Homo sapiens: one gene and its partners. The protein of the gene in region 1 purifies or fractionates together with the protein of each later gene. This does not show direct contact. Each region holds a gene or a part of one and is shown in the gene's direction. Other genes may lie near its edges.

Evidence for each region.
Region 2: the proteins of TSPAN10 (region 1) and VEZT purify together in Homo sapiens (affinity purification with mass spectrometry; one large-scale study listed by BioGRID and IntAct). This does not show direct contact.
Region 3: the proteins of TSPAN10 (region 1) and ALG11 purify together in Homo sapiens (affinity purification with mass spectrometry; one large-scale study listed by BioGRID and IntAct). This does not show direct contact.
Region 4: the proteins of TSPAN10 (region 1) and ELOVL5 purify together in Homo sapiens (affinity purification with mass spectrometry; one large-scale study listed by BioGRID and IntAct). This does not show direct contact.

What each region holds. Positions count from the first base shown.
Region 1 is NC_000017.11:81,639,578-81,644,527, forward strand, and holds part of TSPAN10 (tetraspanin-10), read left to right. Parts: intron 1-2,682; exon of another isoform or gene 2,683-2,729; 5' UTR 2,730-2,835; coding exon 2,836-2,871; intron 2,872-4,950. UniProt on the Homo sapiens protein: Part of TspanC8 subgroup, composed of 6 members that interact with the transmembrane metalloprotease ADAM10.
Region 2 is NC_000012.12:95,276,220-95,280,306, forward strand, and holds part of VEZT (vezatin), read left to right. Parts: intron 1-4,087. UniProt on the Homo sapiens protein: Plays a pivotal role in the establishment of adherens junctions and their maintenance in adult life.
Region 3 is NC_000013.11:52,014,811-52,018,897, forward strand, and holds part of ALG11 (GDP-Man:Man(3)GlcNAc(2)-PP-Dol alpha-1,2-mannosyltransferase), read left to right. Parts: intron 1-4,087. UniProt on the Homo sapiens protein: GDP-Man:Man(3)GlcNAc(2)-PP-Dol alpha-1,2-mannosyltransferase that operates in the biosynthetic pathway of dolichol-linked oligosaccharides, the glycan precursors employed in protein asparagine (N)-glycosylation.
Region 4 is NC_000006.12:53,289,951-53,294,037, reverse strand, and holds part of ELOVL5 (very long chain fatty acid elongase 5), read left to right. Parts: intron 1-2,074; coding exon 2,075-2,262; intron 2,263-4,087. UniProt on the Homo sapiens protein: Catalyzes the first and rate-limiting reaction of the four reactions that constitute the long-chain fatty acids elongation cycle.

The sequences.
Region 1 (4,950 bases):
GTTTTCTTCTTTTTTTTTTCTTTTAAGGCTGGGGTCTTGGCCGGGCGCGGTGGCTCACGCCTGTCATCCCAGCGCGGTGGCTCACGCCTGTCATCCCAGCACGGTGGCTCATGCCTGTCATCCCAGCGCGGTGGCTCACGCCTGTCATCCCAGCACTTTGAGAGGCCGAGGCAGGTGGATCACGAAGTCAGGAGATCGAGACCATCCTGGCTAATATGGTGAAACCCTGTCTCTATTAAAAATAAAAAAAAAATTAGCCGGGCGTGGTGGCGGGTGCCTGTAGTCCCAGCTACTCGGGAGGCTGAGGCAGGAGAATGGCGTGAACCCGGGAGGCAGAGCTTGCAGTGAGCCGAGATCACGCCACTGCGCTCCAGCCTGGGCGACAGAGCAAGACTCCGTCTCAAAAAAAAAAAAAAAAGAAAAGACTGGGGTCTCACTCCCATCGCCGAGGCTGGAGTGCAGTGGCACAATCGTGGCTCACTGTAGCCTCGACTTCCCAGGCTCAGGTGATACTCCCACCTCAGCCTCCTCAGTAGCTGGGACCACAAGTGCTCACAATCACACCTGGCTAACTTTTTGTATTTTTAGTAGAGATGGGATCTTGCTATGTTGCCCAGGCTGGTCTCTAACTACTACTAGGTTCAATCAATCCACCCACCTCAGCCTCCCAAAGTGCTTAGATTACAGGCATAAGCCGCTGTACCCAGCCAGGTTTCTTCTTATACCTCTCTCCTTAGCTCGAAGATGGCACCTTCTCCCCGAGACCTCACATGTTTTTTCTTCTGTGCACACATTCCTCGTGTCTCTCCATGTGTCCCACCGTGTGTCCCAATTTTCTTGTAAGGATGTTGGATTAGGGCCCACGCTAATGGCACTTATTTATTTATTTAGGGATGGAGTCTTGCTCTGTCACCAGGCTGGAGTGCAGCGGCACCATCTCGGCTCACTGCAACCTCTGCCTCCTGGGTCCCAGCAATTCCCCTGCCTCAGCCTCCCATGTAGCTGGGATTACAGGCATGCGCCACGATGCCCAGCTAATTTTTTGTACTTTTAGTAGAGACAGGGTCACACCATGTTGGCCAGGCTGGTCTCAATCTCCTGACCTCATGATCCACCTGCCTCGGCCTCCCTAAGTGCTGGAATTACAGGTGTGAGCTACCGCGCCCAGCCCCTAATGGCCTTTAAAGGCCCTGTCTCCAAGTCCCATTCTGAGGTCCGGGGGGCTAGAACTTTATCATAAGAATGTAAGGGGCACAATTCAGCCATAACAGTGGTAGATGATGATCGTTTCATTAAAAGATTACCCAGACTTTGGCCGGGCGTGGTGGCTCACGCCTGTAATCCCAGCACTTTGGGAGGAGGAGGCGGGCAGATCACTTGAGGTCAGGAGGTCGAGACCAGACTGGCCAACATGGTGAAACCCCATCTCTACTAAAAATACAAAATCAGTCAGGTGTGGCGCCTGCAATCCTAGTTACTCAGGAGGCCAAGGCAGGAGCATCGCTTGAACCCAGGAGGCAGAGGTTGCGGTGAGTCAAAATCGTGCCACTGCATTCCAGCCTCAGCAACAGAGCGAGACTCTTGTCTCAAAAAAAAAAAGGTTACCCATCCTTAGAACAGACTGAGTTGGAGGCCGTGGACAGTCCCTGTGACCGTGACCCTGGCTGTGGAGCTGCTGCAGGGCCCATGAGGTTGGGTTTGTCACCTTTGGGGAGGTGAAGGGAAGCTGGAGCCCAGAAGCTCAGCCTGCAGCTCTGGTCCTCGCCCCGACTTCCCACCTGCAGCATATCCCACTTCTCCGAGGAAGATCTGAAGACTCAGAGTGGCCTTCAAGGCCTCACCTGATCCAGCCCTGTCACCTCATGGACCTCCCTCCCACCCCCATCTCCGCTTGCCCCACACAGCCAGGTGACCTTTCCTCCTAAAACTTGCCCGGTGTGCTCCCACCCAGGCGTCTCACGCGCGCCTGAAACCCTCTGCCTGCTCCATCAGTACATTGCCTGCTGTGCTGCACCACCCAGACCACCTCTTTGGACTGCTGAGTGTTGGTGGCTGAGTCCGGGCACAGTGGCTCCAGCCTGTAATCCCAGCACTTTGGAAGGCCAAGGCAGGAGAATCACTTGAGTCCAGGGGTTCAAGACCAGCCTGGGCAGCACAGCAGAACCCTGTCTCTACAAAAAAAATTCAAAAATGAGTGAGGCAAGGTGGCGTACATCTGTAGTCCCGGGAGGCGAGGTTGCAGTGAGCCGAGATTGCGCCATTGCACTCCAGCCTGGGCAACAAGAGCGAAACTCAGTCTCAAAAACAAAAACAAGGAGGTGATCTGGTGGGGGGACGCTGTTTCATTCGTGCAGTGAACAAGCCGGGGGATAGATTGGCGCTGGGGCTGCCCATGGGTCTCTTGGGATTGGGGTTGTGAACCAATTTACCAGGGTCTGATTCCCTGGTTGGGAGCTGATGGAGCGGCTGCTGACCCTGCAGAGCTGAAGTCCGCATGGGGGGCTGCAGTGAGAGCCACAAGGCTGGCACCCAAACATGCCTGCCTGAGTCACACCTGCGCTGAGCTTAGGGGACCCACAGAGCCAGGGCTGGGGAGAAATATATCTCCACAAGCAGAGGCCTCCTTAAGCTCTAAAATGTGATTCTTCACATGACTCAACTGTGACTCCGGCATCTGGGTAGGGCTCGCACCTCCCCCATTCCCATGCCCAGGGCTGCACTGTTCACAGACTAGCCCAGGGCCGCAGTCAGGACCAGCCCAGCAGCCCAGCCACAGAGGAGCCAGCGAACCTCTCCCGGCGCCTGTGCTGGGGGCTTTCTGTTCCAGCGTCAAGGATGGAGGAGGGGGAGAGGAGCCCCTTACTGTCCCAGGTGAGCCATGCCAAGTGGCCTTGCCCTGAGGTTGGAGATGTCCCCAGCCCTGAAGTCCTAAGGGAAGTCCCTGGGCTGGGTTCACACCCACCCCTGCCCCTGGTGCCACCCCACACCTCAATGCTGAGATTGGGTTGAGGGGGGTGGTTCTAGGCAGCCCCCTCCCCCTTCCCCACTGCGCAGTTCTCTCAGCCCCATGCTGGCCTCTGGTCAAGGGATCTGCCAGATCTCCCTGAGGGCCTTGGGGGCAATCTTTGGCTCAGGGTGCAGGAGGGGGTGAAGGCAAATGTCCCTTGCAGCCAGCCTCCAACGGCCTCTGGCCCCCAGTGGCCCCAGTCTGGCCAACCAGGCACTGACAGCCTGTCCTTTTGCTTCTAGTGACTTGTTGAGGTCTTGGGGGTGATAAATAACCCTCCTCTGGGGCCGGGCACAGTGGCTCACTCCTGTAATCCCAGCACTTTGGGAGGCTGAGGAGGGAAGATTGCGTGAGCCCAGGAGTTCAAGACCAGCCTGGGCAATGTAGCGAGACCCTGTCTCTACAAAATATTATATATATATATATATATATATATATTTAGATAGAGTCTCGCTCTGTCACCAGGCTGGAGTGCAGTGGCACAACCTCGGCTCACTGCAACCTCCGCCTCCTCGGTTCAAGCAATTCACATGCCTCAGCCTGCTGAGTAGCTGGGATTACAGGCACATGCCACCACACCCAGCTAATTTTTTTTAGTCGAGACAGGGTTTTACCATGTTGGCTAGGATGGTCTCGATCTCCTGACCTCGTGATCCACCCGCCTCGGCCTCCCAAAGTGCTGGGATTACAGGCATGAGCCACCGTGCCCGGCCTACAAAAAATAATTTTAAAAAATTACCGGGACGGCCGGGCGCGGTGGCTCACGCCTGTAATCCCAGCACTTTGGGAGGCCGAGGCGGGCGGATCACGAGGTTAGGAGATCGAGACCATCCCGGCTAAAACGGTGAAACCCTGTCTCTACTAAAAATACAAAAAATTAGCCGGGCGTAGTGGCGGGCGCCTGTAGTCCCAGCTACTTGGGAGGCTGAGGCAGGAGAATGGCGTGAACCCGGGAGGCGGAGCTTGCAGTGAGCCGAGATCCCGCCACTGCACTCCAGCCTGGGCGACAGAGCGAGACTCCGTCTCAAAAAAAAAAAAAAAAAAAAAAAATTACCAGGACATGGTTGCAGTGCCTGTAGTCCCAGCTACTCAGGAGGCTGAGGAGGAAGGATGGCTTGAGCCCAGGAGTTTGAGGCTGCAGTGAGCTGAGAGCCTGATGCTGTGATCAGCTTCTTCCTGGTGAAACTGGATTGGAATGGGATCCTTGCCCAGCACACAGCCATGGCTGCTTTTTATTATTTATTTAGTTTTTGAGATGGAGTCTCGCTCTGTCACCCAGGCTGGAGTGCAGTCACGCGATCTCTGCTCATGCAACCTCTGCCTCCTGCTCATGCAACCTCCACCTCCTGGGTTCAAGCGATTCTCCTGCCTCAGCCTCCCAAGTAGCTGGGATTACAGGTGTGTGCCACCACGCCCGGCTAATTTTTTTTTTTTTTTTTTTTTTAGTAGAGATGAGGTTTCTCCACGTTGCTCAGGCTGGTCTCGAATTCCCGACCTCAGGTGATCCACCCACCTCAGCCTCCCAAAGTGCTGGGATGACAGGCGTGAGCCACAACGTCCAGCCCGGCCATAGCTTCTTATTCTCCTTTTTAAAAAAACTCTTCCCGGCAGAACTGGGCACCTGCGGGGCTGCCTCTTCCCCCACAGAGAGAGACCAGCAAGCCTTTCCTGCCAGTGGGCCAGGGGGTCCCCTCTGAAGGCCCTGCAGCCTCCAGGCGGTCTTCCTGGGCTCTTGGGCACCCTCCTCCCTGTCCTGGGAGCCTGTTGGGCAGGGCACTGTCCTGTCCTCGGCAGCAGGGTCCAGTGCCGTGTCCACACTCAGTGCGGGCCGTTGGTGGGGCCGAAGAATGGGTGCTGGGATGTGAGGACTGGTTTCAGAGGGGAAAGAAAAGGGCAGCCATGTGGGCCAGCCCCTGTGGCTGGTGAGGAAGCCCCTCTACACA
Region 2 (4,087 bases), on another chromosome or scaffold:
ACAAATTTTTTTTGTTTTTCTTTTTCTTTTAATTTTTTTCTTTTTTTTTTTTTTTTTTTTTTTTGAGACAGAGTCTCACTCTGTTGCCCAGGCTGGAGTACAGTGTGGCTCAATCACAGCTCACTGCAGCCTCAACCTCCCCAGGCCTCAGGTGATCCTCCTACCTCAGCCTCCCGAGTAGCTGGGACTACAGTTACATGCCTCCACACCCGGCTAATTTTTGTATTTTTTGTAGAGACAGGGTTTCACCGTGTTGCCCAGGCTGGTCTAAAACTCCTGAGCTCAAACTATTTGCCCACATCAGCCTCCCAAAGTGTTGGGATAACAGGCATGAGCCACCATGCCCAGCCTCCAGTAGTATTTTTAAGACATTGATCCAAATGTCTTAAGTTCCTACTAAGTATTTAGTAAGCTCTCTTTAGATGTTTCTTTGTTTTTAGTTTTTAAAACTTCCCTTGATACCGTGAAAATTAGTGCAAGTATTGTTGTTAGCATTTATCAAGATCCATTTTGTTTTGAGACTGTATTGACTTCCATATCTTTTACATTTTCTAAATCAACATAAATGTTCTAATAATCTTGTTTGTTTTCTTTCTTTCCTATTACGTAAAATTTGCTTTGGCTTATTCCTACTCCCCTTCTAACCCATCTCAATAAATGGCACCACAAAAAACCTGGACACCATCTTTCTTGTCCCTCTTTTTGCCCACTCACATCCAGTCTGTTAGCAGATTCTTATGTCACTTCTACCTTGAAAATGTATTTTAAACCCATCCACTTTTTTCTATATCCACCCCCGCCCCCGCACCATCCTAGTCCCAGCCACCATGCTAGTCCCAGCCACCATCATTTCATACTTAGGCTGCTGCAGTACTTTCCTCAGTTATCTAAAGTTATTTGTTTCAGAATGCAACTTGACATGTAAAGAACCTTTTTAATGATTTATCCTTTGAATTTGTAATTCCCCTTCTACAAACTGCAGGAAATTATTTAAAACATAGTTAAACTTTATATACCAAGCTGCTTATTCACTTTGTGTTTATAATAGTGCACAATGGAACACTGCCTGAAAGTTCAAAAATAGAGGAATGGCTGTGTGAGTCATGCCAGAGCCACATGGTGAACCATTGTGTAGCAGCTACAGCTTGCCCGTGAAAATTCTGTAAAAACTTGGAGAAACATCTGTTGCCAGTGAAACAATCAGGATACATAAGTGTATATGCAATATGTCCACAACCCTGTTTAAAAAAAAAAATGAGGAGAAAATACCAAGATATATATAGCTACTCTTTGGGGTGGTGGGACTATAGATACTTTCACACCCTTTCGAATTTAATATCCTAACCTTGCTTTATTCTTTAAGGAAAATAAAGATTTTTTTCAAAGTACAATTTAAGAGATTCTTAATGTGGAAAATGGAGCAGACCTGTGTTTATATTTTAGCCCTGACTGACTAGCCATTTGCCTTTGAATAAGTTATTCTTTGAACTTATGTCACCTGTGAAAAGGAGTTACCATCCCTGCCTTATAAGGTATTAGATTAAATGAGAAGACATATTAAATACCTAGAACAGGGCTTGACATATAATGGGTACCCCCAAATGGTAATAGCTGTTATTCTTTAAGAAGGACTTGGAGAAAGAATTATAGTATTTCATTTCCTTTTAAATTACTTTTTGTTAACTCATCAAGATGCCTTGGAGATTTATTTCTTTATGCTGTTGATGTACTGTTTTTAAAAGCTTATTAAATCCTGAATTGTACTCTAGCTTAAGTATAGGCAGCAAAGAGAAGTTGTGGACCCTGTGGAGTCAGATTTTCCAGGTTTCACTCTAGCTCCGTTATTTGACTACTGTGTGGTCCTGAGCAAATCATTGTTTCTGTGTTTATTAAAATGGGATAATTGCAATGCTTGCCTCCAAAGGATTAGATGTTTGTCAGTTCAGTGCCTGGTGTAGAGTAAGCAATTAATGAATGTTAGCTGATTTTTAAAATTCTATCTGATATGGCCTGCTCTGAAATGTGAGACTTGTTCTCTGTTGCTGTATCCCCATCCTACCTTCCAACAATGGTGATTATAGCTAGATTCCTTTTGCTCACTCACAGTGTTTTACAAATCAAACTATAATAGTATTTTTATATTTCTTTTATTTTTACATATAACTAACCTGTAACCAAACTCAATGATTGTGTTACAGTTACCACATTTATCAGGCTCTGAAAGGAGCCTTATCTTGAGGAGCTCTATAGACTTTGCAAACTGTTGAAAACCCCTGTAATGTTCAAAGACTGTGTATTACCCCCTTCTGTAGTTACCACTGTATCGTTATTCAGATAAGAAATTTAAAAATAGATTTTGTAAGTTAAATTTTTAAAAGTGTGTTGCCCCCTCTAAAGAAAATACATTTTGGATTTATTTTTTATTGTTCCCGTATCTTCCCTCAGGAAAGTTTAGTGATAGTAAGTATTGCACCTTTAGAAAGAAAAGCAACCTCCAAATTGTAGCCTGAGGAGACATAAATAAAATACAGGTTGAATATTTCTTATCCAGGCGTGAGTCTTATCCAGGCCTGGCACCGTGGCTCACGCCTGTAATCCCAGCACTCTGGGAGGCCAAGGCGGGCGGATCAACTGAGGTTGGGAGTTTGCAACCAGCCTGACCAACATGGAGATACCCCGTCTCTACTAAAAATACAAAAAATTAGCCAGGTGTGGTGGTGCATGCCTGTAATCCCAGCTACTCGGGAGGCTGAGGCAGGAGAATCGCTTGAACCCAGGAGGCGGAAGTTGTGGTGAGCCAAGATCGTGCCATTGCACTCCAGCCTGGGCAACAAGAGCGAAACTCCGTCTCAACATAAATAAATAAATTAATTGATTAATTAATTTCTTATCCAAAATGCTTGAGACTAGAAGTGTTTTGGATTTTGGATTTTTTCAGATTTTGGAATATTTGCATTACACATTGAGGTTGAGCATCCCTAATCCAAAAATTTGAAATTTGAAATGTTCCAGTGAGCATTTCCTTTGACTGCCATGTTGGTGCTCAAAAAGTTTCAAATTTTGGAGCATTTGGGATTTCATTTCAAAGTTTTGGATTAGGGATACTCAATCAGTCCCTAGAACACAGTCCTTATCCCTCTCTTTTCCTTTAAGTTTTTAACTAGTTTTTTAAATTTATGAAGTCATCTGTTTCCTGCTCTAGAAAAAATAAATGCACACATTGTGAAATGCTTTAAATCAAAATTTTCTGTTTACCTATCAGCTATGGTTATCTCCTTATCCAGAGGAGCTTTCCTTATCCAAAGAACAAACAGGAAAAAAGAAATACATATTTCTGAGTTCTGGTTTAAGTGGGTAATGTGACAGTGATTGGATGACAAATTAGTCTTTAGAGACAAGGTCTTGCTCAGTCACACAGCTGGTGTGCAGTGGTGCAATCGTGGCTCACTGTAACCCTGAACTCCTGGGCTCAAGCGATCCTCCCACCCTAGCCTCCCAAGTAGCTGGAACAACAGTTATGTGCCACCATGCCTGACTAATTTTTAAGAAAATATTTTGTAGAGGCAGGGGTCTCACTGTGTTTCCCAGGCTGGTCTCCCAACTACTGGCCTCAAGTGAGCCTCCCAAAGTGCTGGGATTACAGGTGGGAGCCACTGCGCCTGGCCTTTAGTCTTTTCAAAAGCCGCAGTAAACTGTACCAACTTGATTCTTGCAGTTATCTTGACCCAACATGCTGGAATCATCCTTGTTAACTCTTTTTCTCTCAATACCAATCAGTCAAGAGATTGTGTTAGTTCTGCTTTCACAATGTATCCAGAGTCCATCTGCTGCTCACCTTCCACCACTAACCACCGTGGTCTCATTAATGCTTACCTGGAATATTGCAGTAACTTCCTTACTGGTTTCTCCACTTCTACTCTCATTTTCCTATAATCTCTCAACTCAGCAGACAGTATGGGCCTGTTAACGCATAAATCAGATTATGTCATGCTTCTGCTCAGAACCCTTCAGTGGCTCCCCATTGCTTACCTGGCCCCAGCCGTACTGAGCTTCTTGCTGTTCCATAGATCTACCCTGTGTGCTCCCA
Region 3 (4,087 bases), on another chromosome or scaffold:
ATGTCAGTAGTGTCAAGGATGAGAAACTCTGATGTAAACAAAAGCTCTATTGTATCCTCAGTAAAATTTTTAAGAGTATAAAGGTGTATAAAGAATATAAAGACCAAATTATTTTAGACCAATTATTTCAGCTTTGAAATAAAGTGCTCATGTGGGATTTCAAATAGAGTCAAATACCTCTTCAAGTACACAGTAGGAAATCCCACATGAGATTTGTTCACAATAGGAACAAATGAGGATTTGTTCACAATAGGAAATCCCACATGAGAACTTTATGTCAAAACTAAATATCAATAAAATATTTACTTCTGGCCAGGTGCAGCAGCTCATGCCTGTAATCTCAATGCTTTGGAAGGCCAAGGCAGGAGGATTACTTGAGGCCAAGAGTTTGAGACCAGCCTGGGCAACATAGCAAAACCCTATTTCTACAAAAAACATTTTTTTAATTAGCTGGGTGTGGTGGCATGCACCTGTAGTTCCAGCTTCTCAGGAGTCTGAGGCAGGAGGATCGCTTGAGCCAAGGAGTTTGGGGCTGCAGTGATTGCTATGATTGCACCACTGCACTTCAGCCTGGGTGACAGAGTGAGACCCTGTATCTAAAAAAAGCAAAATTTACTTTTCTGATGAATTTGTATGTTTTCATGTGGGCAGTGAAAACTATGTGATATGGTTTGGCCGTGACCCCACCCAAACCTCAAGTTGAATTTTATCTCCCAGAATGCCCACATGTTGTGGGAGGGATCCAGGGGGAGGTAATTGAATCATGGGGGCCAATCTTTCCCATGCTATTCTCGTGATAGTGAGTAAGTTCACGAGATCTGATGGGGTTTATCAGGGGTTTCTGCTTTTGCTTCTTTCTGATTTTTCTCTTGCTGCCACCATGTAAGAAGTGCCTTATGCCTCCCGCCATGATTCTGAGGCCTCATAGCCATGTGGAACTGTAAATCCAATTAAACCTATTTTTGTTCCCAGTTTCGAGTATGTCTTTATCAGCAGCGTGAAAATGAACTTGGTACCATAAATTAGTACCAGTAGAGTGGGGTGCTGCTGAAGAGATACCCAAAAATGTGGAAGCGACTTTGGAACTGGGCAACAGGCAGAGGCTGGAACAGTTTGGAGGGCTCAGAAGAAGCCAGGAAAATGTGGGAAAGTTTGGAACATCCTAGAGACTTGTTGAATGGCTTTGAACAAAATGCGGATAGTGATATGGACAACGAAATCCAGGCTGAGGTGGTCTCAGATGGAGATGAAGAACTTGTTGGGAACTGGAGAAAGGTGACTCCTCTTATGTTTTAGCAAAGGTACTAGAGGCATTTTGCCCCTGCCCTAGAGATTTGTGGAACTTTGAACTTGAAAGAGATGATTTAGGGTATCTGGTGTAAGAAATTTCTAAGCAGCAAAGAATTCAAGAAGTGACTTGGGTGCTCTTAAAAGCATTCCATTTTAAAAGCGGAACAGAGCATAAAAGTTCAGAAAATTTGCAGCCTGACAATGCAGTAGAAAAGAAAGACCCATTTTTTTAGGAGAAATTCAAGCTGGCTGCAGAAATTTTCAAAAGTAGCAAGGAGCCTAATGTTAATCCTGAAGACCATGGGGGAAAATGTCTCCAGGCAATGTCGGAGACCTTCATGGCAGCCTCTCTCATGGCAGGCCTGGAGGCCCAGGAGGAAAAAGTGGTTTTGTGGGCCAGGTGCAGGGGCCCTGTGCTGTGTGCAGCCTAGGGACTTGGTACCCTGTGTCCCAGCTGCTCCAGCCGTGGCTGAAAGGGGCCAATGCAGAGCTAGTGCTGTGGCTTCAGAGGGTGAAAGCCCCAAGCCATGGTAGCTTCACATGGTGTTGAGCCTGCGGGTGCACAGAAGTCAAGAATGGAAATTTGGGAACCTCTACCTAGATTGCAGAAGATGTATAGAAACGCCTGGATGCCCAGGCAAAAGTTTGCCACCGGGGCAGGGCCCTCATGGAGAACCTCTGCCAGGGCAGTGCAGAAGGGAAATGTGGGGTTGGAGCCCCCACACAGAGTCCCTACTGGGGCACTGCCTAGTGGAGCTGCGAGAAGAGGGCCACCGTCCTCCATACCCCAGAGTGGTAGATCCACTGACAGCTTGCACCGTGTGCCTGGAAAAACCTCAGACACTCAACGCCGGCCCATGAAAGCAGCCAGGAGGGAGGCTGTACCCTGCAAATCTACAGGGGCAGAGCTGCTCAAGACCATGGGAACCCACCTCTTGCTTAAGCATGACCTGGATGTGAGACCTGGAGTCAAAGGAGGTCATTTTGGAGCTTTAAAAATTTGACTGCCCCACTGGATTTTGGACTTGCATGGGCCCTGTAACCCCCTTGTTTTGGCCAATTTCTCCCATTTGGAACAGCTGTACTTACCCAATACCTGTACTCCCATTGTATCTGGGAAGTAACTAGCTTACTTTTGATTTTACAGGCTCATAGGCAGAAGGGACTTGCCTTGTCTCGGATGAGACTTTGGACTGTGGACATATGGGTTAATGCTGAAATGAGTTAAGACTTTGGGGGACTGTTGGGAAGGCATAATTGGTTTTGAAATGTGATGACGTGAGATTTGGAGGGGCCAGGGCAGAATGATATGGTTTGGCCATGTCCCCACCCAAATCTCAGTTTGAATTGTGTCTCCCAGAATTCCCATGTGTTGTGGAAGGGACCCAGGGGAAGGTAATTGAATCATGGGGGCCGGTCTTTCCCATGCTATTCTCATAATAATGAATAAGTCTCATGAGATCTGATGGGTTTATCAGGGGTTTCCGCTTTTGCTGCTTCCTCGTTTTTCTCTTGCCCACTGCCCTGTAAGAAGTGCCTTACACCTCCTGCCGTGATTCTGAGGTCTCCCCAGCCATATGGAACTGTAAGTCCAATTAAATCTCTTTTTGTTCCCCGTTTTGGGTACGTCTTTATCAGCAGTGTGAAAACGAAGTAATACACTGTGTAACTACACAAAACATCCCCTATTTGCCTAGGCTACTGAGCAGCCCAGAGCCCAGTCTGCTATTCACTACTATGTATGTAAATACAGCCTGCATACCTGTGTCCATCATCAACCACCATCCCAACATACACACCATCTTTATTCTATTTTCACTGGTCCTGACTTTTTATTATTTAACTTTTGGCATTTTATTGTTTTTAAATCTTATAAGCCCTCCTCAAATCCTTTATAAAGGATAGGCAGAGTATGAAAAATATTAAGTTAGATTCCAACTGTATTGGCAACCCTAAAAGAAAAGCACCTTGGCATTTTATTTTAACACATTTTAAGCAACATCTGAAGACGTAATAAACTTTTGCATCCGTCATATATTCATTGGATGCCTTCTCTGTGCCAGGCATCGTACTTGGCATTGGGGACATGGTATGAGCAAGCCTGGGCCCTTGCTTTTGCAGAGCTTCAATCGACCTGACAGCAATGGAGAACCTTTTAACAGTCACTTTGTGAATGAGTTTACTAATGAGTATTAAGTAGAACATTAGTGGGTTTTTGGCAGCTCATTCAGAGGTACATAAGGGAAGGTAGTAGTATTAGATCATGTAAATAGAGCAAATACAGAACTGGAAATAGAAGTGGAGAAATCTAAGTTCCATTCCTTTATCCCAGAAATTGTTCTACTTGAGGTGAAGTGATGGAATGAAAAAGATTTACTATCTTACCAGACTTTAGTGGAATATTGATCGTTCAAAAGACATATTTTTTTTGGCATCTGACCCTCAAAATGACAGTATATAACACATTCTTAATCATGTCTTGTTTAGATTAATAGTTAAATTTGTTTTAATCCCATAACATATATACTAAGTCAGGAGAAAGGGGGTTCAATGTTGATTTTTACTGCTGATTAAAGTATGTTCAATTGGTAACATGCTACAGGAATTGGAACTAAAGGGGACTTATCCTTTCAATGTTGGATATTTAGCAGCATTAGAATTTTCATACTTGAGTATTTTGTTAGCAGACTCGTTAAAGACAATTCTCTCTTTGTTACTAATATATAAAGTAGATATGTAAAAGCAGACTTTAATTTGTAATTTTTTTAATGTATATATCACATTGATTCTCAACTTT
Region 4 (4,087 bases), on another chromosome or scaffold:
ATAACAGTCTGATGTTAGTTGCTAAGTGGGAACTGGTTTTCTTAAAATTGACAGCCAAGGCCCAAAGCTGAGAACAAAAGGTGTTAAGCATCCCCTTAAAGTCCCTGGGGCCAGCCATTTCCCTGAATGACTTCTAAGCACAACCAGTTCTGCCGGACTGACAGTAACACCCTCCGTGACCATAGCATAACTAGTGGGGAGGGTGTGGAGGGCATGTCCCTCTGAAGCCAAAGCAAGCCAGCCATGAGAGAAATGCTGGGAAAGTTTAGTGTGTACAGTGCAAGAAAGGAAGACTGACTGACAGTTCCCCACGTGGACATATGCTTTATTGAGCCTGTTCTTGTTCTGTGAAATCAAGGTGAAAACGACTGGAGAGAGTAGCAAGATGGTCCAGTCTGGGAGGGGTCAAAGAAAGGGCAGAGCCGGGTGTGGTGGTTCACTCCTGTAATCCCAGTACTTTGGGAGGCCAAGGCAGGTGGGTCCCCTGAGGTCAGGAGTTCCAGACCAGCCTGACCAATATGGTGAAACCTGGTCTCTACTAAAATTACAAAAATTAGCGGGGTGTGGTGGTGTGTGTCTATAGTCCCAGCTACTCTGGAGGCTAAGGCAGGAGAATCGCTTGGACCCTAGAGGCAGAGGTTGCAGTGAGCTGAGATCACGCCACTGCACTTCAGCCTGGGCGACAGAGTGAGACTCCGTCTCAGAATAAATAAATAAATGAATAATAAAAAAATTAAAGAAATGGCAAAGGCTGTCCTCCCAACTGCTGCTTCTCTGAAGACGCAGTAGGTGAATGCTGCATGTGCCTCATGTTCTGGAGTTGTGAGCCTTGGCGGGTAGTTAAGATTGAGGAGCCACAGGTTTTCGGGGAACATCATAGCAGGGTTCAAAGGGGAGCATGCTTTTCAGAGGTAGCTTCCTGGGGTCAGCCAGAGTATGAAGCTGAATCTTTCAGGGGACACATAACACTTAGGGGCTCTGGCTGCCAAGGAGTTTCCCGCCATCCAAGAAGAGGTTGTCAGTTTGCTGCTGGCGGCTGACCTGTTTCCCTCTCCCTCCTCCCTGCCTAAGAAAAGGAATAGGGGCAGGAGAGGCCCTTCCTATACCAGTATCTCCTCTGGATCCGCCTAGGTCTTCGCTCTCATGCTACTACTCCTCAGTTTGTTAAATACTGCCCTTTAAATAGGCATTTATCTGATCATTGCTGCTTCACCTTCATGTTTTGTTTTGTTTTTATTTTCATTTTTGAGACGGAGTCTCACTCTGTTGCCCACGCTGGGGTGCAGTGGTACGATCTCAGCTCACTGCAGCCTCTTCCTCCCAATTTCAAGCGATTCTCCCACCTCAGCCTCCCAAGTAGCTGGGATTACAGGTGTGCAGCACCATGCCTGGCCAATTTTTATATTTTTAGTAGAGATAGTGTTTTGCCATGTTGGCCAGGCTGGTCTTGAACTCCTGACTTCAGGTGATCCACCCGCCTTGGCATCCCAAAGTGCTGGGATTACAGGCATGAGCCACCACACCCAGCCCTTGTTTTGTTTTTAAATCATTGTCCTCTCTGCTGTTGACCATTACACTCATAGCAAAGGCTGCCTTTCTAATTAGTGCCAGTTTCACTAACGTGGCTAAGCAGCACGTTTTCTGAGTCTGCATGTGCTGGCCACACTTGCCGACTGACACACAGCTGAGATGGAGGACTTCAGAGTTCAATGACTGCCATTTCTTGGGTTTTATCACCCTATGTGTAATCTGGTATACCTGGTTAATAAATCCAATTAATGGGAAGTGTAGCCTTCTCCTTGTTTTCTTCTTAAGTTCTTTGGAAAGAATATTTGTATTATTATTTTACTGAGCAAAAATCATGAATAATACATTGTTATTCAGAGCATGTAACAAGGAGCTTCACCTTGTTTGATATGTATTGAAAATCCATGCCTCCTCTCCTGATTGCTTTATTGGAATTAAGAACATGAATACCAGGTGACTTTTATATCATCATGGTTAGAGAAATTTTTTCAACGTTTGAAAAGTTGTGAATGTTTTTATATATCATTAATTTTTTTTAATTTTTCAGATACTAGAGTAAAAGGATGGTTTCTTCTGGACAATTATATACCCACATTTATCTGCTCTGTCATATATTTACTAATTGTATGGCTGGGACCAAAATACATGAGGAATAAACAGCCATTCTCTTGCCGGGGGATTTTAGTGGTGTATAACCTTGGACTCACACTGCTGTCTCTGTATATGTTCTGTGAGGTAAGTCAAAGGTTAACACAGTCTTCCTTTCACATAAATGCACTCATATTGCTGTCCTAAATTGTATTCCTAAATGAGGAAAGGTGGCCGCTTGGGGTGTAGAGACAACTGGGCAAGCAAGTATCTTAATGCGTTATGAGTGTGTTTTAAAATCGATTTTTCAAAATGTCAGAGTTGTTTGTACAAGTATGCCTTCTAGAATATCTAAAATAGAAGCCTTTGTTATTGATTCTTCTATTATGTTTCGTATGATATTCAAAATTAAAGTATTTTCAGAAATACTCTCATGCAAGCAAAATACAGAGTGGAAAATGAACAAAATGTGAAAAACACATGTGAAAGCATTTTATTATTAAGCATCTAATAAGTGCCTGCTTCTTGTTTGAAGGTAGGGGAGGAAGGAAGTGGGTGGCACTTGTGTTTGGTATGTTTTGTGGCACATCACCCTCTCTGATTGGATAACTTGTCAAATCTCAGTTGTTTTTTAAAAGCTAAGAGGAGTGTGACTGGTGAGATCTGCATTTAGGTTTTGAATTGTCTGTCTGAGTTCAGGCCCAGTTATTTTATATCACTGCAATGTTGAAAATCACATTTGATGATCTCAAAGGCAAATGTTATAGCTTAAAAATGAAAGAAAAATCAGAATCAACCCTTCTCTTCTCCCTATTTTGAAGGGGTAACACTATAGCCTTTAAAGCTAAAAGGGGGAGGAAAGCTTCCCTCTGGTGGTAAGCAGTTTGTGTACATTTTTCCAGGAAAGCCTACCCACTTTTCATTCTTACAGCACCAACCTATTTCTAACTCTTCTGGAGAATTAAGCCCTGGATAAAACCTATACAGGCACTCCTGTATAGGTTTTCAGGGTTTCATTTTGGTTTTAGTTCTTCAAGGAGTAGTAAAGAAGAAGGTAGAGGTGGGAGGAAGAGGAGAGATAGAAACATGAATCTTAAAATTAGTGTTCAGGGGTCAAAATGAATTCTCCATCAGCCTCAGGCCATGATGGTGTCTCCCTGTCTACGTGTGGTGGTGTGCAGGAGTGTGGGCGTGTGCAGGCATATTTGATTATCAGAGGTGTTGCAGCTGTGGGATATCTGTGTCTTGTTCTCCCATGTATGTTTCATAAGCCAAGGTACAGATATTCTGAATAGAATGGTAGATGTTCCTAGCATTACTTTTATGCTTGACATGCCAAGAAATGCTTACAACTCCTTTTTTTGCTTTTTTTTCTGTCCTATTCTAGAATGAAGTCAGTTTAATTAGACTCCAAGATGGAGAGTTCAGGACTGGAGCCAGGGGAAGTGCACAGGAGTGACTCCTGGCCCCAGCACTATGCACATTTCTGTGTTCAAGGGACAAAACCACAGCAAGCTGTCAGGTTTCTGAGTGAACTGCTTACTTTTCCATAATTGATAGATAATACAGCCATGTCTTTAAGAGAACTCTTACAGAGTTTATTATTATACATGGCAATATTAATAGAGAAAAATATTTCATGTGATTTTTAGAGAACTTAAGCATTTGCCTTAAATGTTTCTTAAGCCCTAGAAATATAGCTATAATTTCATTATTTATCCTCTCTTAAACAGATGATTCCCTGGTAAAGAGAAGAAAAACACTGTATAAAGTACAGCTGTGTGCATCTGAGTGGATGTGGGGGGTTCTGAACACATTGTAATAGAAGGTACAGATTTTCCTCTGATAGCTTGGTGAGAAGAGAAGACTTTGAGCAGTGACTAAGCACTGAATACAGAAATTTAAGAAATATACAGAATAGGGAAACTACATTTTTAACTCACAGTTTAGAGTACATAGAGAGGTAATAGAC